Linked DNA regions of Homo sapiens. The protein of the gene in region 4 purifies or fractionates together with the protein of the main gene of each other region. This does not show direct contact. Each region holds a gene or a part of one and is shown on either strand. Other genes may lie near its edges. The genes, in order: C2CD5, IGHMBP2, NFIB, SASS6, RTEL1, EFL1 and ZC3HC1.

Region 1 (4,462 bases), on a different chromosome or scaffold from region 4:
ATAAAAGATAAAAATCTTAGCAAGAACAATTTCATTGATTCATACTTACTCCTTCATTTCTTTGGATGGGGAATTACATGCAGGAAGGAATGCTGCTGGGCTACTTAATTTATCCAGAGTACACGCCGTTCCTATGGCTCGCACCACTAACCCAGACTCGCCCTCCAGATCGAAACACTGTAAGTACCCCACAACTGCATTTCCTCTCATTTCAAGTACTTTCAAGCCAATCTTCCTCTGCAGCTCACCTACAAAACATGGGAAATCTCATTCTTGCTTTGTAGCTTTACATTACATACTATAAGACTGGACATGGTAGTGGTAAAAAAAAAAAAAAAGACCAAGAAAATCACAGATTTTCAGAACTTGAAGGAAACTTAAAAGATAATCTGGTTTAGCCTCTACAGAATACAGAACATAATTCTATTACAATATAGCATAATTATAAAATATAATATATACTTATACAGCACAAATATATAGAATAAAAACAAATATATTTGCTATATAAATATAACATTGATACTTTGTGTGAAATACATGTATGAATATATATTCACACATATACACATATAACTCTTAATATAAATGTAAATTTTAAATAAAACAGTAAACAAGTTTTTCAAAGAAAAATTTAAAAAGGGAATGAGGTCAGAGTGGCAGGGAAAGTGGTCAAAAGGATAGAGGGAACTACAGTACCTAGGGAGGAACTGTGAAAAGGCAACATCTGAACAGAAAGTATGAGAGACAGAAGAAGGTGATTTGCTTAAGCTCTGACAAATAAATGGTAGATGAAGGAAAACTAGAATCCAGGTTCCCACTCAGGGTTCCTTCCTGAACGCCCCTTGCTCAGCGCTCTTTCCACTACACTACCTCATCAACACAATTTCCTTTTACTACAAGCTTCTGATTTGCATTTCCACTTGTTAAAAGAGGGCAATGCAAGTGTGTTCAGGAAGACTGGCCCAGGGGAAGGCATGCAGTCACTTATAATTCATAGCCTTCATTGTAAAGTTGAGGTAGCATGTCAAAGGAAAGCAAAAAATTTAAGAGAGTACTAAATCAGTCAGTAATAAAGTTATTTTTTTTAAATACCTGACATTAACGAAATGAGTCTCTGTCTGGCCTCATTTGATGCCCTTGGTGTGCGAATTCGATCAATCCACTGATATTCTGGGTCTTCATTGACCACAAGTTCTTCTACAAATCCATGAATTATCACAGCTCTATAGCATTTTGGAATAGACGTTGCTGTTAAAACAAATTATTATGCTTCTGTTTATCAAAAGGTAAAACTCAATTTTTAAAAAATGTACATCTCAATTTTCTGACCTTTAGATACATAATACAAGAACATCTTTTACTGTAATATTTTCAATGTAATTATAATAATACTTCCAGTCTTCTAAGATCTATTTCATTTTTAGAAATAATTATTGTCTTTCATGGAGGCTCTCACCTTTCTCATGTAAGCAAAGTAAATATAAACTGCATTTGTATAATTTGGAAAACAGCTATAGAAGACCTTAAACAGAATTCAATACAAAGTTTAAAAAATCAAAATTTAAGTCAGCTAGCTAATTATTATATAAATAGGTAGAAAGCAGATAATGAATTTTTTTAAATCTTTAATTATTCAAAGCCCTTTGTAAAAGTACTTCTGTACACCACATAGCAGTTTCAAAAATCAAACCATTACCTTTCTGACATAACCTGAGGAGTCAAGTTCAGATTCAAAAAGGAGAGAGAGAACCTGAATACATCTGTACCAAATTAGTCTCTTAAAATAAACATTGGTGCACTGAAGCTAAGTCAACTACTTAGGGATTTCAATCCTACTACTGCAGGCGGGCTGTGATCACCAAGATCTGCCCATTTCAGACCCATATATTTCATGGAGTTCCCTAGACCCAATACCCATAAAAGCCTGTGTATTTTGGGACAGCACCATAGTGCTTAGCCGTAGTGTTCTGCTCCTTTCTTTTAGTGTCCTATACTACAGTGAAATGTCACTGGATTTTTCTAATAAAAATTTCTATAAATTTTCAAAAACTAGATATCATTTATACTCAAATCAGAACTACTGTAACTATTCTAGAAAATTAACAATTTTCTCTTTGGCATTAAAACCAAGTACAATAGCTTTTCTACTTGCCTTCTGAAATGTTAACTTGATTTCTCATATTTAACAGTTATTACATTTCCTGTTGAGTAATAGAATGTATTTACTTACTGCAAAAGAATTTGACTCCACATGATGACTGCCTAAATCGATTTAAATCATTGAAGAGGTCTACTTTGACAACTACATTGATTTCCCCACGGATACCTATAAATTTAAAAAGAAAATCAAGTTTCTACCTTAAGAAAGTAATGTACAATTAAATAATGAAGCAAATTAATGCTAAATAATGATTTTAAAATACAATGATTTAACTCACAATTTTTTGAACTTTACCATGGTGCAAAACCATTCTGATTTTCACTTTCAGTCCAGAATTCAATGAATTACATGAGATGTTCAATACTTTATTTAAAAAATAGTCTTTGTTTTAGTTGATTCTGTCCAACTGTAGGCTAATATAAGTGTTCGGTGCACATTTGAGATAGGCTAGGCTAAGCTATAATGTTTGGTTGATTAGATATATTAAATGCATTTTCAACTTGGGATGAGTTTATCTGGATATAACGCCATCACAAATCAAGGTGCATCTGTAATGTGTTGATCATAATAGTAATGCCAGCTTTGTTTCCTAGTTATTTTCTTTTTCAGTAGTTTCTGTATATTTTCTGAAGCACAACACGTATGCATTAGAATATGAATAATTTTCATTTTCACAAGTCTCCACTTTGACCCAAGACTAATTAGAAAGGAGTCCCATTTGAATTGATGATGATGATAATGATTATGGTGACAACATTTGCTGAGCACTGATACACGATGTACTAAACACTTTACAGGTAGTATCTCAGAGCAGTCACATCAACCCAATAAGGTAGTATCATCCCCATTTTACAAAGGAAGAAATTTTTAATAAAAATTAAGTAATTTACAGTGTCAATAGCTGTTAAGTGGCAGATCCAGGATTAAAATTCAGATCTTTATGATCCCAGATTATATATTCTTAACAATGCAAGAATCTGATTTAAAACAAAAGAAGTTTTATTCTTTTCAATGAATATAAGTTAAAGCAAGCTAACTAAAAAATTCCAAGCCAGGAGTAGTGGCTCATGCCTGTAATCTCAGTGCTTTGGGAGGCAAGGCAGGAGGACAGCTTGAGCTCAGGGGTTTGAGACCAGCCTGGGCAACACAGCGAGAAAAAAATTAAGTAAATAAAAAATTCCAAGAATAAGGGTTTTCAAAACATGCTCTGATAAATAAGAATGACCCAGATCTTATCTCTAAACATTTACTAAATATTTTCACTTGACTGTCCTGACTTCATGTCAAATTCATACTTATGGTGGAAGACTTAAGAAAACTGACTCAATAATTTACCTACTAAAATATTAAGAAAGCAAATCCCAGCACTCTGGGAAGCTGAGGCAGGCAGATCACTTGAGCTCTAGAGTTAAGGCCAGCCTAGCCAATATGGCAAAACCGTGTCTCTACAAAAAATTTAAAAATCAGCCAGGTGTCATGGCATGTGCCTGCAATGGCATGTGCCTGCAATCGCAACTGCCCGGGAGGCCCTGCTTCAGGCAACAAAAAACTTTTAAGTAACTTTTAAGTACAAAAATCATTATTAATCAGTTTGAAAATGTGTTTTAGAAACACAGTATCAATACTAGATCAGTTTTAAATCATGCATTTACTTACTATACTATACAAATTTAGCAAGCATTATCTCAAATTATGTTGAGAGAAGCAACAATTTTACTAACAATAATTTACTATTATTTATTTTTAAAAAGGCATCATCTTAAGATATATTATATACATATATATATATATTTTTTTTTTTTTTTTTTGAGCTAGAGTTTCACTCTTGTTGCACAGGACACGATCTCAGCTCACCACAACCTCCGCCTCCCGGGTTCAAGTGATTCTCCTGCCTCACCCTCCCAAGTAGCTGGGATTACAGGCATGCACCACCATGCCCAGCTAATTTTGTATTTTTAGTAGAGACGGGGTTTCTCCATGTTGATCAGGCTGGTCTCGAACTCCCGACCTCAGGTGATCCACCCGCCTCAGCCTCCCAAAGTGCTGGGATTACAGGCATGAGCCACCGCACCTAGCCTAAAGATACATATTTTAAACCAGCAAATATAGCACAAATGTCTTTAAGGACAAATAAAAAAGATTAAGATTGTTATTTATAATACTTTCTTATTATTCCTTACCATGTATGGTGTCATAAATTGGAAACCATCCTGAGATGACTGTTGCAGCTTCACTATACAGTAAAGGATCAATATCAATGTACACTTTACCAATGGCATCATTTGCACTGTAAGTATC
Region 2 (4,462 bases), on a different chromosome or scaffold from region 4:
GGGAGATGGGTTTGAGGATGAGCTCTCATCTCCTCGGCTGCACCATCTGATTATAAAGCCTCTTCCTTGGCAATACTTGTCCTCAGTAACTGGCTTTCTGTGTGGCGAGCAGCAAGACCTAGACCACACTCCTGGTGTTTCGTGACTTTCTGGGCTCAAGCTATCTTCCTGGCTCAGCCTCCCAAGTAGCTGAGACTGCAGGCATGCATCACCATGCCCAGCTAATTTCTTCTATTTTTTGTAGAGACTGGGTCTTGCTATGTTGCCCAGACTGACCTCAAACTCCTGGGTTCAAGTGATCCTCCCCCCTTGGCCTCCCAAAGCGCTAGGATAACAGACATGAGCCGCTGCACCCAGCCACAGCTCCACTATTAAAAGTGAGACGCTGGCCAAGTACGGTGGCTCATGCCTGTAATCCCAGCACTTTGGGAGGCCAAGGTGCGAGGTCAGGAGTTTAAGACCACCCTGGACAACATAGTGAGACCCCATCTCTGAGGAAAAAAAAAAGAGGAGGTGGCAACCAGCAGAGGAGGCAGAGTCTCTACAGGCCCTTAAGCTCAAAACAAACAGCAGCTCAGGAAGGAGGCTCAGCCACCCACTCTCTATGCCCAGCATCGCCTCCAACCCCACTGGCATGTCCAAAGGCATATCTCCACCAAAGCGTGCACACAGGTGTGTCTTGGCTCACTTTTAGTGAATAGTCGGCACCCAATTAAAACCACCAATCTGCTCCCTTCCAATAAGTCATCTTTTCTTACCAGTTTTCAAACATGTGCAAAGACACTCACACATTGGAAAACCGCTGGACGTAATCTTTTAAGCAAGTGACAGGCTTCCCTGCGCTCTGCCCGAGTTCCATTGCTGGCTCTGCCACTCTGAGTGCTGGGCATTTGACCTTGTTTCTCAGTTTCCTCGTGGTTTTTTTGGTTTTTTTTTTTTTTTTTTTTTTTTTGGAGATGGAGTTTTGCTCTTATTGCCCAGGCTGGAGTGCAATGGTGCGATCTCAGTTCACTGCAACCTCCACCTCCCAGGTTCAAGCAATTCTCCTGCCTCAGCCTCCCAAGTAGCTGGGATTGCAGGTGTGTGCCACCACACCCGGCTAATTGTTTTGTATTTTTAGTAGAGACGGGGTTTCACCATGTTAGCCAGGCTGGTCTCGAACTCCTGACCTCAGGTGACCCACCCGCCTCAGCCTCCCAAAGTACTGAGAATACAGGTGTGAGCCACCACACCCGGCTTCCTTGTCTACAAACTGGGGCCACTAACCACCTGCCTTGGCACAGGGTTTCAGTGAGGATTAAATGGGTGCTCAGAACGATGCCTGGTGGTAGGCAGCACCCAGTAAACATCAAACTACAAAACTGGCCATTATTCCAATTCTCATCATTATCCAACATTTTTATAAACCAGAAAGTTTTTTCAAAAAGCTCTAGAACTTAAAGTATAATTAAAAATAAATAAATAAATTAAAAAAAAAAAAACTCTCCATGTGCCAAGATCCACAATGACTCAAGCTGATGCAGATGATGATAAAAGATCCTTTTTCAGCCATTAAAAATGTAACTGGGCCGGGCACAGTGGCTCATGCCTGTAATCGTAGCACTTTGGGAGGCTGAGGCAGGCAGATCAACTGAAGTCAGGAGTGAGACCAGACTGGCCAATGTGGTGAAACTCCATCTCTACTAAAAATACAAAAATTAGCCAGGCATGGTGGCGCACGCCTATAATCCCAGCTGTTCGGGAGGCTGAGGTAGGAGAATCACTTAAACCCGGGAGGCGGAGGTTGCAGGGAGCCAAGATCCCGCCCCTGCACTCCAGACTCTAGCCTGGGTGACAGAGTGAGGCTCCGTCTCCAAAAAATAAAAATAAAAAAAATTTAAAATGTAAGTGAATAATAATGTACAATGTTATATTCCACATCTCAGAAAATCATTCATCTGTGCACTGGACATGTGCATCGTATCCATTAACCAGACTATCTGATTAGCTGTTAACACCTCAACCAGACGCTGAGCTCCTGACGGGCACAGACCGGGCCCAGGCCAACTCCAGGCCCCTGCACGGGCGTGCACACGGAGGAGCACGAGCACAGCAAGCGTGGTGAACAAATAAACCCTGACCCAGGGCCTGGCCGACACGAAGGCTGCCACGCCTCAAAGGGCTCCAGGAGCCTTCCTCAACAACCCAGGCTACGGCTCCTGCGCGTGCTCCCCAAGACTCACGGGGATGCTGGAAATCAAACAGGGGCAGTCCAAGGCTCAATCAATAAATGCTCAGTAATGTTCCTGACCCATCCCACCAGAACTGAGGCTGAAAGGTCGCTGAGCACCCACTGAACACAACAGACCAGGAGCGGACGGGCTCTGACAGGGAAGTGGCATGCACTGCCCACCTTTAAGCCTTGTTTCACAGCTTGAAGAATGATCTCAACCACAGTCGTGGTTTTCCCAGTGCCAGGAGGTCCATGGATGATGGCAAGTTCTTTCTGAGACAGCGCAAATAAAACCGCTTCTTTCTGGGAGGTGTCCAGGCAGGTGTTGAAGAATGTCAGCGGGTCTGTGGAAGAAGCAGCAGCGTGAGGCTCAGGTGCTCTGGGGAGCTCTGTGGGTGTTCCTCCTCAGAGAGTGTGTGCCCCGGGGGATGAGTGATGCCTGTCAGGAACACGCCGGACCTCCCCAGGGGCAACCCAATCAACACAAAATTAAGTCTGCTTTATTTTCACAAGGTTTCTCCTTGAACAGGAATCGGCAAACTGTGGGCCACATCCAGTCAGCTGCCGGTTTTGGTGAGTTTTACTGGAGCACAGCCACACCCATTGATTTACATACCGTCTACAGCAGGCAGCTGTAGACGGTACGTATGATATGGCCCACAGAGTCAAAACATTCACAATCCATCCCTTTACAGGAAAAACCCCTGCTCTAGAGTAACAGGAATGAAGGAAATGTTTCCTAGAGCATATTCCTTTCTAACATAATGTCCCTCTTTAAAGTGCCCATAAAATGATAAAGACAAATGACAAAAACAATGATTAACAAATTCTAGGATCGTGTTTCTATTTTGAATCTTCCACGACCAAGACTAAAGATCTGCTTCTTTTTTTTTTTTTTTTTTGAGATGGAGTCTTGCTTGTCACCCAGGCTGGAGTGCAATGGCATGATCTCAGCTCACTGCAACATCCGCCTCCTGGGTTCAAGCGATTCTCCTGCCTCAGCCTCCAGAGTAGCTGGGACTACAGGTGAGTGCCACCATGCCCAGCTAATTTTTTGTGTTGTTAGTAGAGACGGGGATTCACCGTGTTGGCCAGGATGGTCTTGATCTCCTGACCTCATGATCTGCCGGCCTCAGCCTCCCAAAGTGCTGGGACTAAAGGTGTGAGCCACCGCGCCTGGCCAAGACCTGCTTCTTATGCTGTGCTCTTGAGAGCAGGTGGTGCTGTGCTCAGCCCTGCAGCCATGGCATTCGCTACATGGTGCCCACTACACAGAGACGCCTATCGGATAAGGAGCAGCTCATAAGCAAAGGGTGTTTGCTGACCCTGACTTGTGAGACTGAAGCCAACATGGAAGACGGCAGGGTGTGCAGCTAGTAACAGGCCATTGAACCCCACGTTCCCGTGCTCTAGCCAAGCCATTCCAGAGTCCCTAAGACACAGTAAATACATTTCTAATTCAGTTTGTGACGCATAGGAGCCCTTCAGTAAATATTTCATAGAAATAAAGCATTACTGAAATGTGACTGCATTTAGAATTTCCAAAGGAAAATGCAGAAAGAAAATGAGTATTTAAAAACAACACATCTTGAGGGACTGCATGCTGAAAGAGTGCTACAAAGTCGTCCTGTGTGTTTGAAGCTAACACAACACTGGCTTGCCTAGCACAGTATGATAGAAAATAGCTGTGGGGTAACCCTTGCATGAGGCTTGGCCAAAGCCACCGCTTTACAAATGGGCCAAGTCCAATACTCACAGGACTGTTAAATCATGGGCAGTGACTGGATGAGACAACAAACTCCTCCCAAAAATGACGTTCTCCAAGAACAGCAAAGGACATAAAAAGTGCACAGACCGGGCACGGTGGCTCACGCCTGTAATCCCAGCACTTTGGGAGGCCGAGGCAGGTAGATCACCTGAGGTCAGGAGTTCAAGACCGGCCCGACCAACATGGTGAAACCATGTTGTCTCTACTAAAAAATACAAAAATTAGCCGGGCATGGTGGCGGGCACCTGTAATCCCAACTACTTGGGAGGCTGAGGCAGGAGAGTCACTTGAACCCAGGAGGCGGAGGTTGCAGTGAGCCGAGGTCGCACCACTGCACCCCACTCTTGGTGACAGAGCAAGTCTCCGTCTCAAAAAAAAAAAAAAAAGATTTTTCCAACCTAAAATTGCTATCAAGCATAAAGTATGATCAGCTTTCCTCTATTTTCACAAAGTACTAAGCTAAAAGAAATATCATTACATTT
Region 3 (4,462 bases), on a different chromosome or scaffold from region 4:
ATATTTTGTAATTTTACTAGTCAAATCAGATCCCTTTTTGAACAACCTGTATGTAAGTATAAAAACAATTCATTAACAAACAGGCTGAGGGTACTCCTATAAGTGAACTGTGATCATTTGGGTCTGATCCTCTCCTGAATCTCTTCTATTAATAACACCACAAGAGTAGGCATCAGAGTTTCTAGAACTTGGTTTTGACCATTTATCCTGTGATAATCTTTCAACTACTTAAAAAAAAATCTTTGTTTTCTGTGTGCTTTTATTTAAATTGCTGACATTGTTTGCTCAAAGATGTGAAGACATCCACTTTTAAAATGAGTACTTAGTGTTTTGGTGACTGTAATGCACATAGCAAACCTCTAGAACAAAATAATTTTTAGTTTTTCCTGAGTAGGTCGCATCCATCTGTGCATTCAGGGAAGTATTCTAAGCATTAAGAATTACTGATGGGTATTACAAGCCTATAGGAACTTATTAATTGACGGGGCTCATGAATTTTGAGAAAGAAATGCTGAATTCACTGTACAAAGTATTGTCCATTTTTCTTATAGGGTTCCTTCCTAGTCTTTCAGAAACCATAAAAAAAAAAGAGCATCTTTCCAATGGCTGAGAAAGAATGAGTGGTGCATGCCTCTGATTGTCTCTGATTCACATGGAAATTTCAAGATCATGGGGATTTTCTTGCTCTAAGAAAGAAAAAAAAAAGGTTTGAATTGAAGATATCTGTATAATTGGTGAGGTGCATGCTAATTCCACCAATTCGATAGCTTTATCCATTCTACTTCACCAATTTGTACATTCCAGCTCCAGTACTAAGAAGCTGACAGTTGGGTGAAACCACCTCAAAATTAATTTCTTCTATACTTCTAAGTATTTTACATGAAAAAACAAAGGAATGATGCGGCTTATTGGTACGTGTTAGGAAGGTTCACTGGCTAAATCTCTGACATTTAAATGTTATGGCCACACTAAAAAGCACAGTATTTGATGTACCAATGATAAGCAAAATAATCAAAAGGTTTTAAAAAAAAAGCTTGCAGATAGTGAAAGTACAGGTAGCTTACATGTGCCTAATACTAAGTTTTGAAATGTCCTCATCTGTTCCCAACCTTATGCGACTGTTTTTAACAATGACATAACCTACAATGATGTAAACATGCAATTACCTTACAGAGGCACTGATTCCATCTGCTTTGTGAAGGGGCTTGATTTCTATAGGAATGCTCCAATAAGTACCAATTACCTAATCTCTCTTTGGGTGATACGAAAACTTTGTATTCTGCGTTATGTTACTCAGTGCAATTTCAATGTATACCTTGAACAAGCAGGCATGACTTATTATTTTTGTTATAGCTGTTAACTTAAACAAGTGAGCTTCTCCCTTTTCAAATATGATTCACTGACTGGAATTTGAGAAGAGAGAGCCTGTGATAGCAGGGCCACATCCATGCCTGCTAGCTCCACTTAAATGAGAAATCTCCATCTGGTCAGGTAGCTGGAAAAATTGCCGTGTTTTCCACCTTGGATCAGATATCCAATGGTGCCTCTGATGGACATTTCTCATTTCCTATGGAAATACTTACTGGTTGCTGTAGGTGAAGCTGCCTCACCTTCAGTGGATGTAGTGATGGGTTTAGTATCTGTCATGCTCAGGGTCACAGGTCGCACTGCACTGGGATGGGGAGAGGGTGCCAAGACAGGAGTGAAATGGCCAGGCACTTTCCCTACTACTTGACCACTGCCGTTAGGCTACAAAACAAAAACAGAATGCCGGGTGAAGCAATCCAAAAGGCAGTCATCTTGTTCAACAAGTCCACTCAGCACACACGACTGTGTGGATCCAGCACACTGCGCATAGGCGCCACACAGGCCCTCTCGAGTCGGAGTCGGAGAGGCCAGTCAATGGTTGGTAGTAATAAGGAGCAGCAGCATTTCAAAGAAGGTTTTCATCTTCAAAGCACGTCATGGTATAGGTGAATTCCTCTTTACAGCACCCCTGAGAGCCAGGTAGACTTGATCCTTTCATGTAGTAGGCCAAGAAACTCAAGTGCAGACTTAAATGCTTAGCCCAAAGGCTAAAATGGAATTCCTTACTGAACTAGCTACAGTTGGAACCCAATGCTTCCTTATTCTCTGCTCTTCATTTTCTATAATGAGTCAGTTTTGGCTTTTAGAACACAATTTTCACCTACATGATGATATCACTGAAACAAAGGACACAAAAATATCTAGGAGATCAAATACAACGAATTCTGGAATTTTCATCATTTACAGTCAAGAACCATTCTCCTGCATACAAAACTCTAGCTCTCTTACACACAGGTGTGCTGAGATGCACACATTAGGCAATTTAGATTCCGAGATCTATGGTCAACTTTTGATGATTTACTAATACAAGAAGATAGAATAAGATGTAAAGCATCTAAAATTTCAGAGGTCATACAATGATATAAAATGCTGAGCTACGTTTGTCCTTACACCTACAAATAAAAGATTTCCAAAGTAAATTAAACTGTACTGAGGGGAAGCAGAGGACAAGCAAATGAGCATTGTTATTTGAGTTACTCTTACATCCATGGTGGTGCATGGAGAGTTACACAAAACATTTCTTGTTGACATTTGTGAGAATTAACTGAGAAAATCCCCTGGGCAATGATAGAAAAGATGTTACTATCTGAGTTTTAGCTCCTGGGTACAAAAATAGTTTCCGTGGTAGGAAACAAAATCCTAAGGATACACTCTTTGAAGAAATAGTGGAATATATTTTTCTAGACTGAGAATGTTATTTTTGATTATACCCATGTTGGAATTCTCCACTGCACGGTGTTCATCGCAATTTGCTGGGAGGCTATTCTCGGCAAGTATATAGTCTTTATAATCTGAACTGTTAAAGGCAAAAAAAAAATGAAGCAGAATATTTTTCTAAATATCTGCACATAAATTACAAGTAGACATTTATTTAGAGAAAAAGATGAACAGCTAATAACACTTAAATATTGTGACTTAGAGACATGAACTAAGTCTTCGGTTAGGCTCCTCAGAGGCCACATTATTTATTCTATAAAGAAAATGGACTTCCTGAATATCCTGATTATTCATCATGGGTAATTTTAAGTATTTAACTTGATGTCAGGAAAATTGACCAGAGTTTTCCAATATGGAAACCTATGGGAGAGTTACATCTTTAAACTAATTTTATTCAAAATATTCCATTGAATAGCATGACTGTCTCACTATAATTGGTGCAGCAGTAATGCAATTAATCTCAAAATTGCTGTGGGGAGGAAAAGGCATCTCAGTTGCTTATCTTAAAAATCAAAATCAGTGCAGTGCTGGAGAATATTGGGAAGCAACAGCTGACTAGAAGTGAATGGTGAAGGAATACTGATGTTTTTCCATTTCTAAAGCTAAAATGGTAAATACCAAGAATTCTAATTTGAAATGCAAATTAATTGGTTTTGAGTTGGAGTTAAAAATCAAAGCAGATACACTGTTCCTTAAAAAAAAAATCTGCAGTTAACTATAAAGACCCATTTTTCCTTTCAAAGGGAAAAAGTAGTTTGTTTCTACAGCAGGCCATCCATTTCTGGTTATCTGAACACTGGAAATAAGTGCTTTAAATATCTTAAGAAAGAAGACAGGTCTCATTTTATCATTGGTGGTACATTCAATGGTAAAAATGTTTCTACATACAGTGTTCACCAAAACAGTCTGAAAGTACCTACCTGGAACAAAATGTCTGGAGCAGAATGACAATAATTTCAAGGAAATGCTGCCACCAAATATATTATCCTACCCTGACCATTCTACAAACTTCACCTACTGGAATTGAACAACATGAACTAGTAGACACTTCTCTCATTTGAAAAGAATAAAGGTGACAAAGAAAGAATTCCCAAGTCAATGCAGACAACTTTCCTAAAACTCAGGGTGAGAAGAATTGAGGGCTATTTTCTCCTCAGTTTTCTACTGGTTCAAACAGATGAAGCTACACTAAAAATTTCTATCTTTTAAGGCTGTTAATAGATGAACTTTCATACTGTAGATAGAAAAGAGAGATGTCTTGTCTGAAGGTGAAGCTAACAGCATTAGGAAAGGATTATTCTACTTTATACACGGTTCCTATTATACAAAATCCTGAGAGTTTTTTTGTTGCTAGTTTTTCTTTTTCTTTTTTTTTTTTTTTTGAGATGAGAGTAATATGCTTCCTTAGAAGGTGATATGTATCTTGAAAAAGTGAAGAAAAACTGAGAACAATATAGGCAGATTATCACCTAATATGCCCTCTTAACTTATAAAGAAATTGAAATATACGTAAAACAAGCACTGAATAATTAAAGAAATGTGTAACACTAAGGGCCTGATTTTAATTTGCATAATTTTTCCCCTAACAGTGCCTAATTAAGACATCAGTTAAAAAAAAAATCCAATGGAACTCTAAGATTTTCCACACTGAATTAAC
Region 4 (3,393 bases):
CACTTTATTTACAGAGCTAATGTTTGTCCTAAATTTTCAGGACCCTAGAGGAGAGCTTTATACAATTACCGATGTGAATTTCTCTAAAGTGTATATTTTTGTGTCCAGTTATATTATTTAAAAAAGTGTTACTTTGTAAAAATTGTATATAAAGAACTGTATAGTTTACACTGTTTTCATCTTGTGTGTGGTTATTGCTTAATGCTTTTTAAACTTGGAACACTCACTATGGTTAAATAAGGTCTTAAAAGAAATGTAAATATTCTGTTAATAAAGTTAAATATTTTAATGATTTTTTTTTTAAAAAAGTCTTGATCTGTGAGTTCCTACAGGGTCTGTTTTGGCTTTGTTACCATATTTTTACAGTAACAAATCAAAGCATTATTCATTCTTTCTTTGCATCCATTTCTTTTCCCTCACTAAAAAATGCTCTTCAAGGAAGACAAGAGGAAAGAAACAAAAATGCAGTATGCGTTTTGAAGTACTTGATTTTCAAAGTGTAGATGCTGCATAATAGTTTATTAACAAAGCTCAAAGTTTACAGAAATAACATTAAATGCAACACTTTTTGATTATTAACACATGTACAATTTTACACTGCAAAACAATTGCAACTAAAAGTTTAGGAGGTAAAGAATTAGCACACTTGGAAGTCTGTATACATTTAATACAAATTTGCAAGATATCAGAATGATCTCTCCTGAAAATTCAACTTTCCTTGTGTATATATATGCAAAGAGATACCTATATTTTAAAAAAGAGAGCTACCTGTATGTCATGCATCCCATCCAAAACATGTCACAATATTTTATATATATTACATAGTATTTACAACAAAGCCCCTTCCATAGTATTTACAATAAAGCTCCTTCCAAAATCACCAAGAGGCTTCTTTCCAGAATAGCAAGTGCTTTCAAGTTACTGTACCAAGTATTCTCACTAATACAGTAGTGTATCTAAATGGGGGAGGTGGGGGAGTATCAACTGCCTAATATTAGTTACTGAATTTTCAGATTAGATCCCTAGTTTAAAGACACTTGCAATTGCCAATAGTTTCAAGATACTGGCTTCGTAAAAAAAAAAAAAAAATTAGCAAAGATTCTTTCTTACCATGGGACTCAGTAATGTTATTACATCAATATCTTGAAATGTTTCTTCATCTGTGTAATAAAGTAGTTGAAAATAATTTTAAATTATCACATGAGCATTAGTACTTTATAAAAATTGATCTAGAAGACTCTTTAGAGAATGCTACCAGGTATTGTTTGTCAATAAGAAAACAAAATGAGGCCCTATGATTCTAGGTGAATTTTAAAAAAATTTTTCCCCAAGGAACAATTCTTAAAACTTTCAGTTACAGGGAAGAGAAGAAAATTGTACCTTCTAACAGTTATTTGTTTTGCCTAGTTTATTAACATTGAAATCAACCCAAGTTCTGATACTATAAAAATAAATGAATATTCATGATATAGTAGATTTAGTAGTAGTACCAAGTTTTAAAAGTCCACTGATACAGATTTAACTGCATAATAAAACTACAAATTGAGAAAAACTAGATGAGTATAAACATTTAGGAAGCACTGAAGTTTTAAAAACTTGTCAGCTCAAATGACAAAAGCACTTAATCTGGTCACATAAAAACTGTCCAAATTATTTTAAGTATATCAAATTTATTTGATTCATCACTAGCAAATTTAAATGCTTCAAGGAAAATACGCTATGAAGGCTTAATTCATTTCAGTTATTTAAGGTAAATTTAGGACTTTTCCCTTTAAATGTCATCAATAATATATCTCAAGAGGTAATCATTTTCCCTCATGATTTTCAGGTGTTGAATTTAAAAGTTTTACCAATGAAAGTGATAAAATGAATTAGTATTCTTTGGTTGCATACTATGAGGTTATGAGCAGGTTTTAGTTTACCCAGATTTTTAATATGATCAGAATCTCCCTCATAAGGATCAACTCTTTCCTTAGAACTGAATTTCTAAAGAATAGCTTAATAAAATTCATATTATTCTATAAAACGCCATGTTCACAAACCAAAAAATGTCATTTACTCACAATCTTTACCAATCCCCAAGTACAAATTTGTTCCTATATTATAAACTGCCATAAAAGCAGTACTTAAAGTATCCAGTCTTTAACAGCTCAAGTAAAATTTGAAACTTGCTATTTGAGGATCTGGTTTGTGTTGACATATTTTTTAAGCACCTGAGTTTCTAAAATACCAATAAAAAGTAAAACATGACACTAGAATTAACTGTTTGGTAACTGCCCAGGGAAATAGGCTGAAGACGCAGAGGGGAGCGCTGTGGGTTTGGAAGATGTATGTAATGCTCCTAAAGTGCCATCTCTCTGATGGTCTGCAAATGAGGACAAAAAAAGGTTACTGGTATTCATTAAGTCTTCATACATTAAATTTAATTCAACTATAAAGTACAAAAATCCAGAAATCCCTGCTTACCTGAATTACTAAATAGGTTCTGGCTGAGTCCGCGTAAAGGAATGCTATCTTCCCTTTTCTTCAGGTATTTGGATTCCAACCCTACATTTTCACCACTTAAAAAGAAAATGGTAATAACTTATTTAACAAAGTCTTTATTAACTTTGAAGGTTTATCTCATATGTATACATATATATAAGATAATGTAACTAAGTTCTATTTATAGCTTAGCTTTGTTCAGAACACATTCTTCACTGGTTTCTTAAGCAAATGGTAATTTTATACATAAACCAAAGTATCCTCAGTAAAGAGTAGATTATAATAAAATTTTAAGAGCTGGGATAAGGATGGTGGGAAAAATGAAAATTCTACAAGTGCTATAAAAATTTAAATACTAGCACATAAGTGATACATGACAGAAAAATACGTGCCTTGAGAGTAACACTATTAATTTCTAACTCATATTTAAAATAAGATTTCTTTTTCCTTTGACCAAAAGCTCTTCGAAATTTTCTAGTGCTTCAAAGTAGTCATGATCAAGTATTAACACACATTACACAATAAATTCTGATCAAATTAATACAAATGAGAAAATCTGGGGGAGAAAGAAGGGCATTTCTGTGTTTCCCCTTTCTACCACTGCCATCCTTTCTAAATACATCCAGTGTTAACGGTTTCCCTAGTATTACTTGTAATAAGAAGTTAAAGGCTCTTGCAAAACAATGAGAATAAATCAATCCTTAAAATTAAATGATGGTTGCTCTTGACCCAATTTTCAGAAATAAGTGGGTGAACAGACTTTTTTTCTATTTTATTTTTTTCTTTAAAGTTTGATACCCGGTGCCACTTTTTGCTAGCTGACAAATAAAAGAACCAGAAAAAACTCAAAATCACTGAACAGTCCTAATTTTATGGACAGATGGATATGTTTGACTTCATACTACAAAT
Region 5 (4,462 bases), on a different chromosome or scaffold from region 4:
ACCCTGCTGTAACTCACCTGGCCCCCAGCCCCACCCTGGCCCTTCATCTCATCCAGGAACTGCATCTTGAGGACAACCCGGGGGTCCATGCGTGGGGGGTACGGGAGGCCCGTGACAATCACACCACGGCCATTCGTGTCTGAGAAGTCCAGCCCCTCGCTGGCCTAGGGGACACACCAGGGAGCTGCCTGGGGCCGTGGGGGCTCCTCTCCCTGGTGCCCACACCCAGCCCAGCCACCTTCCCCGAGGCTCCGTCCCCAACCAGGGGTGGGAGGAAGCTCCATCTGTGGGTCAGGACCCCACTTGGGGTCCACAGCTCCCAGACGCCACCTCCAACTCTTGTGGCCAGGAAACTCCCATCCTGCCTGCCCAGGCCCAGAGCAGGACACGCTCCCAGCAGGGCCAGCAGTCGCTCTCGTGGGACCCAAGGAGGGGACCGGGCAGCCCCCAGGGCCCAGAGTCTGCTGGGGAGCCATAAGCACCCACCAGGGAACAGGCAACCAGGTCAGGGCAGAGGGCCCTGGAGAGCTCACCTTGCCCCGGCAGACCGCCAGGAAGGTGGCGCCGGTGGACCCAGGGGCGGCAACCCTTGCATAGTAAGCACTGATGGTCTGGAAGGAAAGTTGGTGAGGCTGAGCCTGGAGCCCCCCCCCAGCCCCTTCCTCCCCCATGAGGGAGACCCAGGTCTCATGCTCCAAGATGAAGGATCGTCCTAGCCAGGAAGGCCAATCGGGTTCTGGAAGCTTCTTCCTGGCACGGATCCCAGGCTGACCCCACGCCTGCTCAGTGCTTCCCAGAAAACACGGGGAACCCCAGGGCCAGGGTGGCCGACTAGGGCTACTCAGACAGGAGGGCCACTGTTACCACACCCACCCGGTGCTGGGGGCTTTGTAAGATAAGAGGCAACACTCAGGGCCAGGAAGGAAACGCAGGAGCCCTGAAGAGGCAGCGGGAGCCGCCGGAGCCCATGGTCAGGGCCAGTGGTCAGCCTTGGGGAAGCTGTGAGAGGCAGGGGAGGCACGAGGGGGCAGCAGGCCCAGAGCCCCGGCCAAGTGCCGACCTCGGAGAAGCTGCCTTTGCTCCTGGGCTCCACAAACAGCGGCTTCAGCGCCTCCATCTTCCTGGCCAAGTCGCGGGCCTGTGGGAGGAAGAGGCAGGGACACGGCAGCCCTGGTCACGCCGCCGATCCGATGAGGGCAAGCAGGAGCTGTGACCACTGCCTGCTTCATGCTCCAGCCCTGCCCTCACCCACCCCGCCCAGAACACAGGGGAGACGCACCCGCCAGAACTCCAGGCTCTTCTCCATGACAGGATAGGAAGGGAAGAAGATCAGGAGCCCATAGGGCACCACGCGGGCGATGTTGCCTGGAAGTGCAGGGGCCGGGGTCAAGGCAGGGGCAGGATGTCTGCAGGGTTCCCTACCAGCTCTTGGGAGCAGGGGTCCAGGATCCAGGATGGGCACAGCTGGGGCATTCAGGGCACTCACCCAGAGCCTTCCCCAGGGAGGATAAGCACTCCTCGGAAAACCTAGAGCCGGAGAGGCCACTGCTCAGGACCTCAGGCCTCAGTGCTCCCCCACCTCCCACCCCAGCAGGGCCCAGGGACAGGCCCTCACCGTCTGTCAAACGCGGAGCTCAACTGGGCTCCATCGGGGCCTCTGGGGACGACCCCCACCCAGATCTGGTGCTTGTCGATGATGTGTGGGTTCTCCAGGCAGACTGGGAAAGGGCTGAGCGTGGCCAGAGGGAGCAGACAGTGGGGAAGTGCACCAGCACCCCTTTAGCCCTCGAGGCCCGAGACCCCCAGCACCCGGCTCATGGGGACCCCCACCACTTCCACCCCGCTGATGTCAGAGGTGTCACCGGTGCTCAGGCCCTGGCAGGGGTGGCCCGTACATCTGCATCTCCAGAGCAAAGGAGGACACCGGGGCCAGCGTGCCGCTGGTAAGGATGAGGGAGCGGACGCCCTGGCGGACCAGCTCGTGCATGCTGTGGCCGGGACTGAAGCACCAGTAGCTCAGCACCTTCCCTGTGGGGCGGGGGGCGGCAGAGGGCACAGAGTGTGAGGACGGGACTGGGGGCCTGACCACCTGCCTCTCTGCCCATCACCCTCTCCACCCACTGGCATCAAGCAAGCGAGCCGCGGGCAGCCACCCAGGCCCACTGTGCAGAAGTCAGAACAAAGGAGGCTGCCCTGAGTGTGAGCCTGCCAGCTTGGGGCCCCTCTGGGGGACAGGGGGTCCTGGGAGTAGGAGGCAGACCCCAGGCAGAGGCTGGGGACACCTGCAGAGAGGTCAGCCCACTCCAACCCTAAACTTCTGCAGAAACTGTGACATGCGGCTCAGGGCAAGAAGCCCACCCCGCCAAGAGCACACGGGAAGGAAGCGCCGGCATCCCGACATTCCACGGCCGCGTGCAGAAGACGGGGTGCGAGTTCCCAGCTCTGCCTGGAAGCAGGACACGTGCACAAGCCTCTGAGTGGCGTCAGCAGTGAACAAGGGCGCCAGCTCAAAGGAAGTTCCTAGAAGGGCTTGACCGACTGGCCACGGCGGCCGTGGCCTGGGGAGGAGGCTGAGTCTGGATGCCGGATGCCGGGAATTCAACACGGCACAAGCAGAACGACTCTGACTGCGATTCGGAGTCAGCAGGGACGAGGCACGTTTCCTTCCTGGGGCTGAGTGTGCCCTGCAATGGGGGAACTTCCCCACCCCCTCCTCCAGGAGCTCATTTCCTACAAACGCCCAGTGCAGGGAGTGGCTGCTTCTGAGAAGTCAAGTGACATCAGAGGTCAATGGAACAAACAGATTCCAGGCCCTTGGAATCTGTGCACCGGCTGCCTCAGGCACGCACTGCCTCCCGCAACCCCAACTGCGTGAGGGGCGCCGGCCTCCCCCCGGGATGGACGCTTCCTGCTGGGAGAGGCCTTGCTGCAGGACCATCACCGAGCGGGGGTCAAGCCACGCCACCCTGACGCCCTCCCAGCCCTTCCCTTCCGGCTCGGCCAGGCAGACCCAACCACAGCAACCGCACAAGGGCTGCTTCAGCCAGGGCCACGTCATGCCACCATGGGTCGGACAGCAGCTGAGAAAGAATGTTCCAGAGAGGGACGAACCAAGCCCAGAGGCAAGGCCCCACTGGAGCACAAGGCAGGGGCAGCAGCTCCCGCAGCTGCAGCCGTGAAGCCCCACCCTGGACACCACGCAGTGGGGGTGGGGCCAGATACACCCCAAGAACCACAGGGCTCCGGACACGGAGCCGAGGGCACACTCACAGACCCCATCCACACAGCGTCCCCGGCAGCACCGACTCGAAGACGCCACGGAGCACAGGAAGCCAAGAAGGCACGTGGGGCCTCGGGGCTGAGCGCACCAGGGGCTTCGGACAACAGGGCCAGCCGGGCCCCCTTCAGATGTGACCCTGAGGCTTGGCCCGGCCAGGCGCTGCGTGGAGGCAGCAGGCAGAGCCGTGCCTCACTGTGGAGGCTCTGTGCTGACGGCCTCGGCATAAACGAGCGTGTCCCAGCAGGGAGGCCTGGCTGGGCTGTGGCTCTGCCACCACCAACCAGGTGACTCTGGGCAGGTCACGGTGCCATCAGGCCATCTCCTACGTCTCTCAGTAACTCCAATCTTCAGAGGGACAGTGAGGAGAATGCTCTGGATTGGCCTGGATATGGAGAAGGTGGCCAGGCCCATGGGGGCAGGAGATCCACGGCTGGGCATGTGCCTAGCCTGTGGCATGGTGGTGCCGGGCACTGCACCCGGGCGGGCGGGGAGCGTGTGGGCCCAGGTCTGTACCTCGCTTTCTGGCTGCAGTGGTGCTCCAGGCATCAGACCGCTGAGCCGTCCTCCGGTGACCAGCATCAGGATGGATGTGCACCTGGAGGGGACAGGACCAGGAGTGTGGAGGCCCCGCCCATGTCCTGGGGGCAGCCCCTTACCTTTTAGGACCAGAAGACCCCCAGCCCCACCTGCCTCCTGGAGGTGGCCCCCACCTTATAGGACTGTAAGGCCCCCAGCCCTGCCGGGGAACAAGGGCTGCCCTCCACCTGCCTCCTGGAGGTGGCCCCTACCTTATAGGACTGTAAGGCCCCCAGCCCTGCTGGGGAACCAGGGCTGCCCTCGGAGGGGTCCACACTGAACACAATCTGAAAGGCAGAGGAAGTGCAGCCCCGTCAGGAGCCTGAGGCCACCCGACTTTCTGCAGCATCAGCCGCATACACAGAAGGTCACAGGACACCCAGGGGTCATCGGTTCACCGGCCCCTGCCATCATGCAGCCCCAGGCCAATGGACAGGAGCTGGCACCTGCCTGACCCTTTCTCCTCCCTGCAGGGACCCCCGGTGAGCTCTGTGTTCCCCCAACATAGGCCATCTCCATGCACTGAAAATGCGGCAGCCCGAGGGGCCTCTCCTCCCGCCAACTGGCCCAGCCCTCCTCTCTGTGCCCCTGAGGGCCCCAAATTAA
Region 6 (5,037 bases), on a different chromosome or scaffold from region 4:
AATCAATGCAGGCCAGGCGCAGTGGCTCACGCCTGTAATCCCAGCACTTTGGGAAGCCGAGGCAGGCAGATCATGAGGTCAGGAGATGGAGGCCAACATGGTGAAACCCCGTCTCTACTAAAAATACAAAAATTAGCTGGGTGTGGTCGCACGAGCCTGTAATCCCAGCTACTCAGAGAGGCTGAGGCAGGAGAATTGCTTGAACCCGGGAGGCGGAGATTGCAGTGAGCCGAGATTGCGCCACTGCACTCCAGCCTGGCAAGAGAGCCAGACTCTGTCTCAAAAAAAAAAAAAAAAAAAAATCAATGCATATGTAAAACAAGTCTTAAAGAACATTTGTTATCTGTGGAAGATAGAATTATGAAGGCGTTTTACAATATTATAGATATTTTTGCTTAGATTTTTATGATACTTCTTGTGTATTTATTGCATTGTCAAAAAATAAAAATAAACCCTTAAAAAGACAAAACTAACAACCACAGCCCAAAACAAACAAACAAGAAGTAAAATCACGCCATTCCAATGGTGGCCCTCAACATAATGAAGACTGAATTTCCTTACAGTTGAATGAGAAAGGAACTTGCGTTGAATATAAATTAGGAGAAAAGTAAAAATTTTCTCCTGCACACCAGTCTGAGGATTCATACACCCAAAGTTAATTTGTTGATATTTTAATCTATATATAATTATGAACTGTGTTTATTATGAGACTATTAAAAAAACTGCTTTCCATCAACATGTAGGTGTTTTCTTTGAATGGGATTACAAATACACCAGGGATTGACAACGTTCATATTTACTTAGCAAATAATGATCTAATCCCTGGGTCAATAGTGAAGCTGAGGAAGGAGAGGACTGTGTTTACAGGTGATGGAAGGTTGTTAGGCAGGACTCACAGTTGGATTCTAGATTTCAGGGTAGGGACTACTTACTGACTTTTCAGTCAGGCGGATCCCAAAGAACTGCTGCCTGGACGGGAATGGGAATATGGTCTGGCTGGGAGGACAGAAAGCTACAGATGAAAGAAAATGTGATATGGGTTGCAGACTCAGGGCCTTGAGCACTGTTCTTTCTCATCTTCGTGGTGGGGGATTATGGGGTGGAAATGCACTCTCCCAGTCGGATCACATCCCACTACTCACCAGCGTTATATCCCGTCGCGGCTTCACATATATTACTTACCTGGCCCGGGTGGCATTTTACTTTGCATCCTTGATTGGGAGTCTCAGGGGCTACGAACAAACGTTTTACCCCCGGGTAGCAGGCGGGTGAGGAGCGAGTATTCGCGGAGCGGGATAAGTGGGGATGTCGCTGCGCCCTCGTCCCTTCATCTCCGGGGGACGGCCACTCTCAGGGTTCCCGAGGAGCCGGCTCCGTGCACCTAGGCCCTAGGTCGGCTCCCAAGCCCGGGCCCGCCGCTACACCAGCCGTTTCTTACCCGCAGCTACAAATCTGACACAGACACCAGCTCCTCATACTCTTGGCTCCCATGCTTTCCTCCACCGCGCCTCAGCACTTGCAGCTTCTCCACTCCCACAGCGCCCGCCGTAGTCAAGGCAACAGAGGGATGCCCGGTGACAGACTCGGCGCCGGCTTCCGGCGGCGTCAGAGACGTGCGGGTGAAAGGTCGAGCGACAGCCGGCCCCGCCCCCTGGCGCGCGGGCGTGTCGGACCCGCAGAGCTCTCGGACTTTCGGAAGCTCTCGGTGTGGGTGCGACCCGAGAGAAGGAGCGGGGCTGGTGGGGCTGCTGCAGCCGGTGAGTGTGGGCTGGCGCTGGGGGCTGGAACCTCCTAGGCCAGCCTTTGGGCGGTGCCGGAGGAACCCGCTCGCTGCGGCTCTGAGGCGGGAACAGGGGCTGGGGCCGAGCGCGGGCTGGGAGCTTCGGTCCCCGGAGTGCCGCTTCCCGTCTGGGGCCGGGGCGGTCGCCTGTCTGTGTGGACCCAGGATCCTCAAAGAGAACGAATCTGGGACCCTGCAGAAATGAAGGGCATGTAGTGTAGAGGTTTTTCCTTTTTATTTAGAAAGGAATGAAAGACCGGCAGTGCACCTGCTTGGATAATAAGCACGTGACCCAAAACTTTGTTCGGGCTCCATGGGCAGGAATAAAGCTGGGTATTTGACCTCGCGCGAGGACGAGCGAGAATGTCAGAATGAGGGACTTGGGGGAAGACTGAAGAGAGAAAGGGAGCATCTTCTTCAGCATTTTCTCTCCCTCCTGGATGCAACCCTTCCTGTACGTGGTCATTGGCCTGGAGATGTTTACTGGAGTACTCCTCCACCGGCAGGGTTACTGGTGTCACTGTGCACCCAGTCCCCTCGAGCTGCGTGATTCATCGCAGCCTTTGGATCCGGAAGGATGAGCAAACTCCTTAAGTGTAATCGTGGTAGGATACTGACTTTAGTGCTCGAACTGGACTTAGGCCTTGGTGGTCTATCTCATCAATAAACATTCACTGGGTTCTTGGTTTAAGGGGTTTGAGAAGCTTGCCACCTCCCAGCGTTTATTATTATTTTTTTCTTTTGCCCCGACCTTTAGCCTCTGGGCCATTTGTAATACATATTTAATTTTTAGTCACAGGAAATAAGTAATCATGGTGCTCAACAGTTTGGATAAGATGATTCAACTCCAGAAAAACACTGCCAACATCAGGAATATTTGTGTTTTGGCTCATGTTGACCATGGTAAGAATACTTTTTAAATGGCTTATTTTGATAAATAAGGGAGATGTGTCTCTGTATGTCTCAGTGGAGTGAAGCTGTGGACAGCTGAGAGTGATGTTTGCTAAGAAGCAAGTCTTCTTTCTTTAAAAGTTTTGTGTGATGTTAGGGAAGCCTGCTTTGCTATAAAGCATTTGAAATGAACACGGTTACCTAGTGAGTAGCATTCTTCTATATATTATGTCATGTTGTTTTTTAAAGCAGAACTTGAATTTTTTGTTTTTGAAATGGCTTTACATATAAAATGTCTGTAGTCTTGACATAATGTCCTTAGAGTCTGTGGTATGTGATCCTATTTAATTCATCAGATATTTATCAAACGTCTGTTAAGTTCAAGATATTTTGCTTAGTATGTCTGAAGGTGGAGATTTATGAGTAGGGCACTAGCCCAGGGGAGGTTTTAACGGGGAGCAGAGCAAAATGAGACAAACAAGAGAAAAAAGTAGACTCTAAGGTTGGGAGAACTAGAGGATTAGGAAGTGAGGGGTTAGGAAAAGACCTCACAACATAATTAGTATTAGAGATGACACTTGAAGGGGGCTCAAGATGACAAATGGAGATAATCATTACAGGTGGGAATGTGTCATCAAGGGGAGAGGGAAATATATGTGGTCAAAGCCCAGTATATGGGAAAGGCAGAGATAGCTAACCCATGGTATGTTCTTCTGACAGATACTGCTGTAACTCCATAGCGCTCCTTCATGCTAAGCCTCCTCTTGATTTCAAACCTCTTGGTAGTTTAGGTAACCACAGCAAAGTGATTGGGATGGGCATATGAAATAAAACATATTTACCATCCTGAAGATGAAGGACCAGTTGGCGAGGTGAAGAAGCAGGCTGAGTCATATCTCATAGAGCTGCTCATGCCAGCTAGGAACTGGGATAAGAGTTGAGTGCTCCAGCTCTGGAGTTAGACAACCTAAGTTCAGATCTCCATTTTCAAGTTACATACCTTGCCTTTTTGAGCTTCAATATACAGCATCTGTAAAACAGGATGAAAACTATACCTGCTTTATAGGCTATAGGATTAAATGTGATAATAATGAGAGGGAAGGTAAACGCTTCACCATGAAAACGATCATTAATGTCTACTATTAGGCAGTAGGGAGCCTTTGGGGGAAAACATGGAGCAGGAATGATGTAATCAAATAAAACATGAGAAAGATTAGATTGGTAGACATGCTTAGGATGGATCCAAAGTCAGAGATTAGGTGGCTGTTGTCATTGATAGAAGAGCTGAAGTAATGTGAGTATGGAAACTGACAGAAAGACAGATAGTGGATCACTTACAAGTGAAGCCAGCTGTGAATGAGTTTTAGTACAAATCCAGTGAGTAACCCCTGCCTCCATGAGTTTTTATAATTTTACTGCTCACATTTTGAGAATGTGAAGGCTGATAAAAGGGTTTTTTTTTTCTTTATGAATTTATTCAAGTGGAAAGTTAGTGGGGTGTAACAAATTACTTTAAATGTATTGTTTAAAATTATGTTAAGCTGCTACTATCCTAAAAAACCTGGGATTCATCCATTCAACAAGTATTTTCTGAAGGTCTTCTATATGACAAGCGTTGTTCTGGTCCTAGGGATACTGCTGTGAATAAAGCAAAGTTCCTGCTTGCTTGATAATTATTTTCTAGGGAGGTATATACTTGGTGTACTTAGAATAAATTCAGCTTTACTGGGTAGCAGGAAAGTGATGCTCTAGGATTATATGCTAATACATATTTACATTGCAGACAGATAGCAGTGTTAAATATCTTCAGTTCTCCTACTCATTGGTCTCTGGTTTGAACAATACAGAGATTCCATAGCTTTGCTGAAGTTCCTAAAGTGCAATAAAGACTTGTCTTGAAGGAAAAAAACCCTCCTTTGCTTACTCCAACCCAGTTGTAGTAATTATGCATACCCCTGACATTCTTTACACAGAATCACCTGTTTATATCACATAAAATCTCATAGACTTTAGTTGTATGTAGTCTGCTTAATAAAAGTAACTATAAATATATTCGAAGATTCTTTTGCTTTAAAGTAGATTCCTAGGTTTAGATTTGGATACTAGGTTTCATTGGTTGTTACAGTATGTTTATGCCCTCCACATGCTATATTACAAACAGTAAGAGATATGGATAATGTTCCTGAATTTCTTTGATAAGTAAGTATTTTCTTAAGACAGTTTAGCAAATTCCAGCTGAGGCCATGCATGGGGAAATATGGCAAAAGAGTATGTTCTCTAAAGTTACTTGACAACTTTTCAGATGAGGTTGAGTAGATCCACAGGGTTGGAGATAAGATTACAGCATTATAGAGTGCTAGCCTCTG
Region 7 (4,462 bases), on a different chromosome or scaffold from region 4:
AAAAATGGTCTTCCATGAAAACGGTCCCTGGTGCCAAAAAGGTTGGGGACCGCTGCCAGATCAGGTTTGTCCCTGTATCACACCGTTGTTCCATTTGCCTGAAATATCTATTATTTCTCCAGAATCCACTCCAAAGGAACAAAAAGGAGCAAAAAACATGACTGACATTTTTTCCCTTTGGTCATCCAACTTTAAATTTATTCACATGGTCTACTTTTTGCATTGGACCACGGAAGGGCTCCTGCCTGCTTCTCCATGCTGCCTAGGGAGGGCCCAATATGCTGTTTATGCTCAGCCACTGCTACATGCGAGGTGGACTCACCGAACTGCTGGAGGAGCAGAGGCGAGCTCGCTTGGCTTTCCGCAGAGGGCTAGATGGTACCTCCAGGCCAGGGGTGTCTCCTGTTCCCATGCTTCGGGTCACTGGGCGAGTTCTGGTGGTGGGGCTAGCAGCCTCTGGCTCAGGACGGTCAACAGGACTGGAAGAGTCCCAGCTCCGAGTTCGAGAGACAATGGGACCAGGGCTCTTTTCAGCCTGAAGGAAAGGGGAGATAATGGAAGTACACGAATGATATTAATGATTATGGTCAGAAATACTTCTTTCTTTAATCTTTTTTCTTTTTTTTTTTGAGACAGAGTCTCGCTTTGTTGCCAAGGCTGGAGAGCAGTGAGGCGATCTTGGCTCATGGCAACCTCTGCCTCCCGAGTTCAAGTGATTCTCCTGCTTCAGCCTCCCAAGTAGCTGGGATTACAGGTGCCTGCCACCACACCTGGCTAATTTTTGCATTTTTGGTAGAGACGGGGTTTCACCATGTTGGCCAGGCTGGTCTCAAACTCCTAACCTCAAGTGATCTGCCTGCCTCAGTCTCCCAAAGTGCTGGGATCATAGGCGTGAGCCACCGGGTCTGGCTGAATTTAGCTTCCCCATTAGTGAACAGAAACACTATGTGGTATCGTAACCAATGTAGTGGGAAGAGAAGCCTATCCACCTAAATTAATTTCCAACTTTCTACCAACAACACTTTTGCCAAGAATGTTGTTTAAAATTCCACCCCAAATAAGCTAAGTGAATACCTGCTCTGAGCCTGGGGAGAAAGTGGCATCCTGGCTCCGGGTCATCATCCTCCGAGGAGATTCAGGCACCAGAGGTAAGCGCTCTGGTCGCCCCTCAAGGCCTGGGATTGGGGAGCTGGTCAGGCCAAAGGATGCATCCAGGTCAGTCATGGACGATTCAATCTGCTGGAAGCCCCAGAGCCCCACCTTCCTCATACATTGCGAACATGTTATCAGGGAGAGCTGCATGGATTCCAAAGAGGAACTAGATAGGAATGAAAAAGAGAGTTTTCTCAAAGTGTAACATTTCCAAATGACTAAGTGCAATGTCTTGTGAGTATGCCTTATCTCATCCAATTTCTGGAACAGTCACCATGTCCTATCAGAGCCTCTGTGCTCCAGTCTCAGGACCCAGCTTCATACTTCATCATCTCTCACATATTTCCCATAGAAAGACCTCGGGTTCTTAGTGTGCTCTCTATGGTAAGACTGTTTTGCAGGCATGTTTTAAAAGTTTCTCGGCCGGGTGCAGTGGCTCATGCCTGTAATCCCAGCACTTTGGGAGGCCAAGGTGGGTGGATCACCTGAGGTCAGGAGTTCGAGACCAGCCTGACCAACAACAACAACAACACAAAAAGTTTCTCCTGTCCCTCTTTTTTTTTTTTTTTTTTTTTTTTTTTTGAGTCAGAGTTTTGCTCTTGTTGCCCGGGCTGGAGTGCAATGGTGCGATCTCAGCTCACTGCAACCTCCGCCTCCCAGGTTCAAGTGATTCCCCTGCCTCAGCCTCCTGAGTAGCTGGGATTACAGGCACCCGCCACCATGCCCGGCTAATTTTTGTACTTTTGGTAGAGATGGGGTTTCACCATGTTGGCCAGGCTGGTCTCGAATTCCTGACCTCAGGTGATCCACCCGCCTTGGCCTCCCAAAGTGCTGGGATTAAATAAGTGTGAGCCACCGTACCCACCCTCTCTTGTCCCTCTTAAAGTCTTTTCCCTTTAAACAAAAAACATTCCTTAATCTACCAAAGAGAGCATATTTAAAATACATCAAGATTTATTTACTGTCAGAACCAATCTTGATGTATTTTAAATATGCTCTCTTTGGTAGATTAAGGATAGTGGGAGTCTATGCCAAATTGAGCAGCTGGAATGGAAATAGCAACATGGGGGCCTAGAAGACTCCAGCTGGTGTTTCCTATGGTAGTTTTTATCAATTAAGCGGATTTTTCTTCCTTTCTAAAAATAGAAAAGAACTTCCTTTCTATTTTTCCTTCTTAAAAATAGAAAAGAGCTTATTTTCTTTCCATTTTTAGAAAGGAGGTTCACTGTTTATAGAACACAAATTCAGCCTGGTGTGGTGGCTCACGCCTGTAATCCCAGCACTTTGGGAGGCCGAGGCAGGCAGAACACGAGGTCAGGAGATCAAGACCATCCTGACTAACACGGTGAAACCCCGTCTCTACCAAAAATACAAAAAATTAGCTGGGCGTGTGGCAGGCACCTATAGTCCCAGCTACTCGGGAGGCTGAGACAGGAGAATGGCGTGAACCCGGGAGGCGGAGCTTGCAGTGAGCTGAGATCGCGCACGCCACTACCCTCCAGCCTGGGCAACAGAATGAGACTCCGTCTCAAAAAAAAAAAAAAAAAAAAAAAAGAGAACACAAATTCCCAGTTAAGAAGCAACAGTACAAGAAACAAAGTTCAGTTGTGAACACCAAGAATTCCTGAATTCCAATTCTGGTTTTGTTACTAATTCTTATTATCCATTCTCCTCGCACCATCCCCCACCCAGTTTTTCTTTGTCTCTTTTTCTCACGGGAAACACCATGTGATTTCTAAATACGATTAGTGACTGATATATATGGGTGTAATGCTGTTGTCATGGTTCATGTCTCCAGGCAAAATCTGCTGACTCACCTACACGCCCAGCCACACACAGAGAGAATACAGGCAGTGACGTGGACTTGGATGTCTGAGCCTAATTTGATTGTAGTTTTTCTCTCATCAGTTCGGTGATCAAGTTCATCTTCAAGCAAGTGTAGGAGAAGACTGATCTTGTCTTCTGTCAAGCACTACAAGGGAGCCAAGTAAAAAACTTCGTTTCAACCACCATAAAAAGAAAAATTACACATTATAACATACCTAGATGGTACAAGCCGAAAATCAGGAAGGAAATTACAAACATGAAGATACTTCTCTTCACAGAGAACAAAATACTTCCAGGGACAGGGCTATAGTATCACACAGAAGCTTTCTGAATTGCCCTGAATCTGCTGACTGAGAAAGATGGAGTCTCCCTGGAACTGCCAAAACTCTTGTTAGTACTAAATTGTTCAATTTACCAGCTGCAGATTTTCCCTGAAACCTGCAAACTTCAAACCCAAATAGTGAAGACAAATTACTGCTTATGTCTTAGCCTGACACTAAATTTACTTAAACATTAAAGAGGCCAGGCGTGGTGGCTCACGCCTGTAATCCCAGCACTTTGGGAGGCCGAGGCAGGTGGATCACAAGGTCAGGAGATCGAGACCATCCTGGCTAACATGGTGAAACCCCGTCTCTACTAAAAATACAAAAAAATTGGCCGGGCGTGGTGGCGGGCACCTGTAGTCCCAGCTACCCTGGAGGCTGAGGCAGGAGAATAGCGTGAACCTGGGAGGCGGAGCTTGCAGTGAGCTGAGATTGCACCACTGCACTCCAGCCTGGGCGAATGAGCAAGACTCCGTATCAAAAAAAAAAAAAAAAAAAAATTAAAGAAAAAAAAATTTTAGAGATGGGGTCTCACTATGTTGGCCATGCTGGTCTTGAACTCCTGAGCTCAAGCAATCCTCCCACCTCAGCCTCCTGAGTAGCTGGGACTACAGGCATACATCACTGTGCCCCAGGCTCTAAATTTACTTTTTGACAGAACAACAAAGCTCGTTAGACTTTATTTTTGTTCTAAGAAAAATAAGGAACTATGACCAGGTGGAAAAAAAAAATTGCCTTGGCTAGGGACAGGGTTATATTCATAAGCATCAGAGGTTAATAGTTTCAGTCTATGGCCATACCACCCTGAACGCGTCCAGTCTCATCTCATCTCGGAAGCTAAGCAGGGTCAGGCCTGGTTAGTACTTGGAGGGGACTTTGGGAGGTTAACAGTTTGATGCTAAAACCCATACCACTCTCTTAATTTGAAGAGGCTACTATTTCCTACAGTAAAGCTTGTCTTCATGGAGTACCCATAGGGTGATTAAATGGAACAGTAAATATTCAGTTTCAAAGTACAGATTGACTAGAGCATTTATTTTATTTTTGAGATGGAGTTTCGCTCTTGTTGCCCAGGCTGGAGTGCAATGGTGCGATCTCGGCTCACTGCAACCTGTCTCCCAGGTTCAAGCAATTCTCCTGCCTCAGCCTCCCAGGTAGCT

What was found.
Region 1: the proteins of SASS6 (region 4) and C2CD5 purify together in Homo sapiens (affinity purification with mass spectrometry; one large-scale study listed by BioGRID and IntAct). This does not show direct contact.
Region 2: the proteins of SASS6 (region 4) and IGHMBP2 purify together in Homo sapiens (affinity purification with mass spectrometry; one large-scale study listed by BioGRID and IntAct). This does not show direct contact.
Region 3: the proteins of SASS6 (region 4) and NFIB purify together in Homo sapiens (affinity purification with mass spectrometry; one large-scale study listed by BioGRID and IntAct). This does not show direct contact.
Region 5: the proteins of SASS6 (region 4) and RTEL1 purify together in Homo sapiens (affinity purification with mass spectrometry; one large-scale study listed by BioGRID and IntAct). This does not show direct contact.
Region 6: the proteins of SASS6 (region 4) and EFL1 purify together in Homo sapiens (affinity purification with mass spectrometry; one large-scale study listed by BioGRID and IntAct). This does not show direct contact.
Region 7: the proteins of SASS6 (region 4) and ZC3HC1 purify together in Homo sapiens (affinity purification with mass spectrometry; 2 studies listed by BioGRID and IntAct, with this or other methods). This does not show direct contact.

Annotation. Positions count from the first base shown.
Region 1 is NC_000012.12:22,523,377-22,527,838, forward strand, and holds part of C2CD5 (C2 domain-containing protein 5), read right to left. Parts: coding exon 4,345-4,462; intron 2,330-4,344; coding exon 2,234-2,329; intron 1,252-2,233; coding exon 1,096-1,251; intron 249-1,095; coding exon 50-248; intron 1-49. UniProt on the Homo sapiens protein: Required for insulin-stimulated glucose transport and glucose transporter SLC2A4/GLUT4 translocation from intracellular glucose storage vesicle (GSV) to the plasma membrane (PM) in adipocytes.
Region 2 is NC_000011.10:68,909,534-68,913,995, reverse strand, and holds part of IGHMBP2 (DNA-binding protein SMUBP-2), read right to left. Parts: intron 2,557-4,462; coding exon 2,393-2,556; intron 1,611-2,392; exon of another isoform or gene 1-1,610. UniProt on the Homo sapiens protein: 5' to 3' helicase that unwinds RNA and DNA duplexes in an ATP-dependent reaction. Specific to 5'-phosphorylated single-stranded guanine-rich sequences. May play a role in RNA metabolism, ribosome biogenesis or initiation of translation.
Region 3 is NC_000009.12:14,114,598-14,119,059, forward strand, and holds part of NFIB (nuclear factor 1 B-type), read right to left. Parts: intron 1,750-4,462; coding exon 1,611-1,749; coding exon of another isoform or gene 1,584-1,610; intron 1-1,583.
Region 4 is NC_000001.11:100,083,070-100,086,462, forward strand, and holds the end of SASS6 (spindle assembly abnormal protein 6 homolog), read right to left. Parts: intron 2,562-3,393; coding exon 2,467-2,561; intron 2,366-2,466; coding exon 2,259-2,365; 3' UTR 501-2,258; downstream 1-500.
Region 5 is NC_000020.11:63,685,204-63,689,665, reverse strand, and holds part of RTEL1 (regulator of telomere elongation helicase 1), read right to left. Parts: intron 4,144-4,462; coding exon 4,069-4,143; intron 3,876-4,068; coding exon 3,794-3,875; intron 2,029-3,793; coding exon 1,896-2,028; intron 1,730-1,895; coding exon 1,616-1,729; intron 1,528-1,615; coding exon 1,487-1,527; intron 1,366-1,486; coding exon 1,280-1,365; intron 1,139-1,279; coding exon 1,061-1,138; intron 612-1,060; coding exon 534-611; intron 165-533; coding exon 18-164; intron 1-17. UniProt on the Homo sapiens protein: A probable ATP-dependent DNA helicase implicated in telomere-length regulation, DNA repair and the maintenance of genomic stability. Acts as an anti-recombinase to counteract toxic recombination and limit crossover during meiosis.
Region 6 is NC_000015.10:82,259,334-82,264,370, reverse strand, and holds the start of EFL1 (elongation factor-like GTPase 1), read left to right. Parts: upstream 1-1,636; 5' UTR 1,637-1,757; intron 1,758-1,842; exon of another isoform or gene 1,843-2,234; intron 2,235-2,573; 5' UTR 2,574-2,592; coding exon 2,593-2,683; intron 2,684-5,037. Other genes in the region: SAXO2 (stabilizer of axonemal microtubules 2), read right to left, coding at 1,439-1,491. UniProt on the Homo sapiens protein: GTPase involved in the biogenesis of the 60S ribosomal subunit and translational activation of ribosomes.
Region 7 is NC_000007.14:130,023,189-130,027,650, forward strand, and holds part of ZC3HC1 (zinc finger C3HC-type protein 1), read right to left. Parts: intron 3,125-4,462; coding exon 2,970-3,124; intron 1,319-2,969; coding exon 1,075-1,318; intron 536-1,074; coding exon 323-535; intron 1-322. UniProt on the Homo sapiens protein: Required for proper positioning of a substantial amount of TPR at the nuclear basket (NB) through interaction with TPR.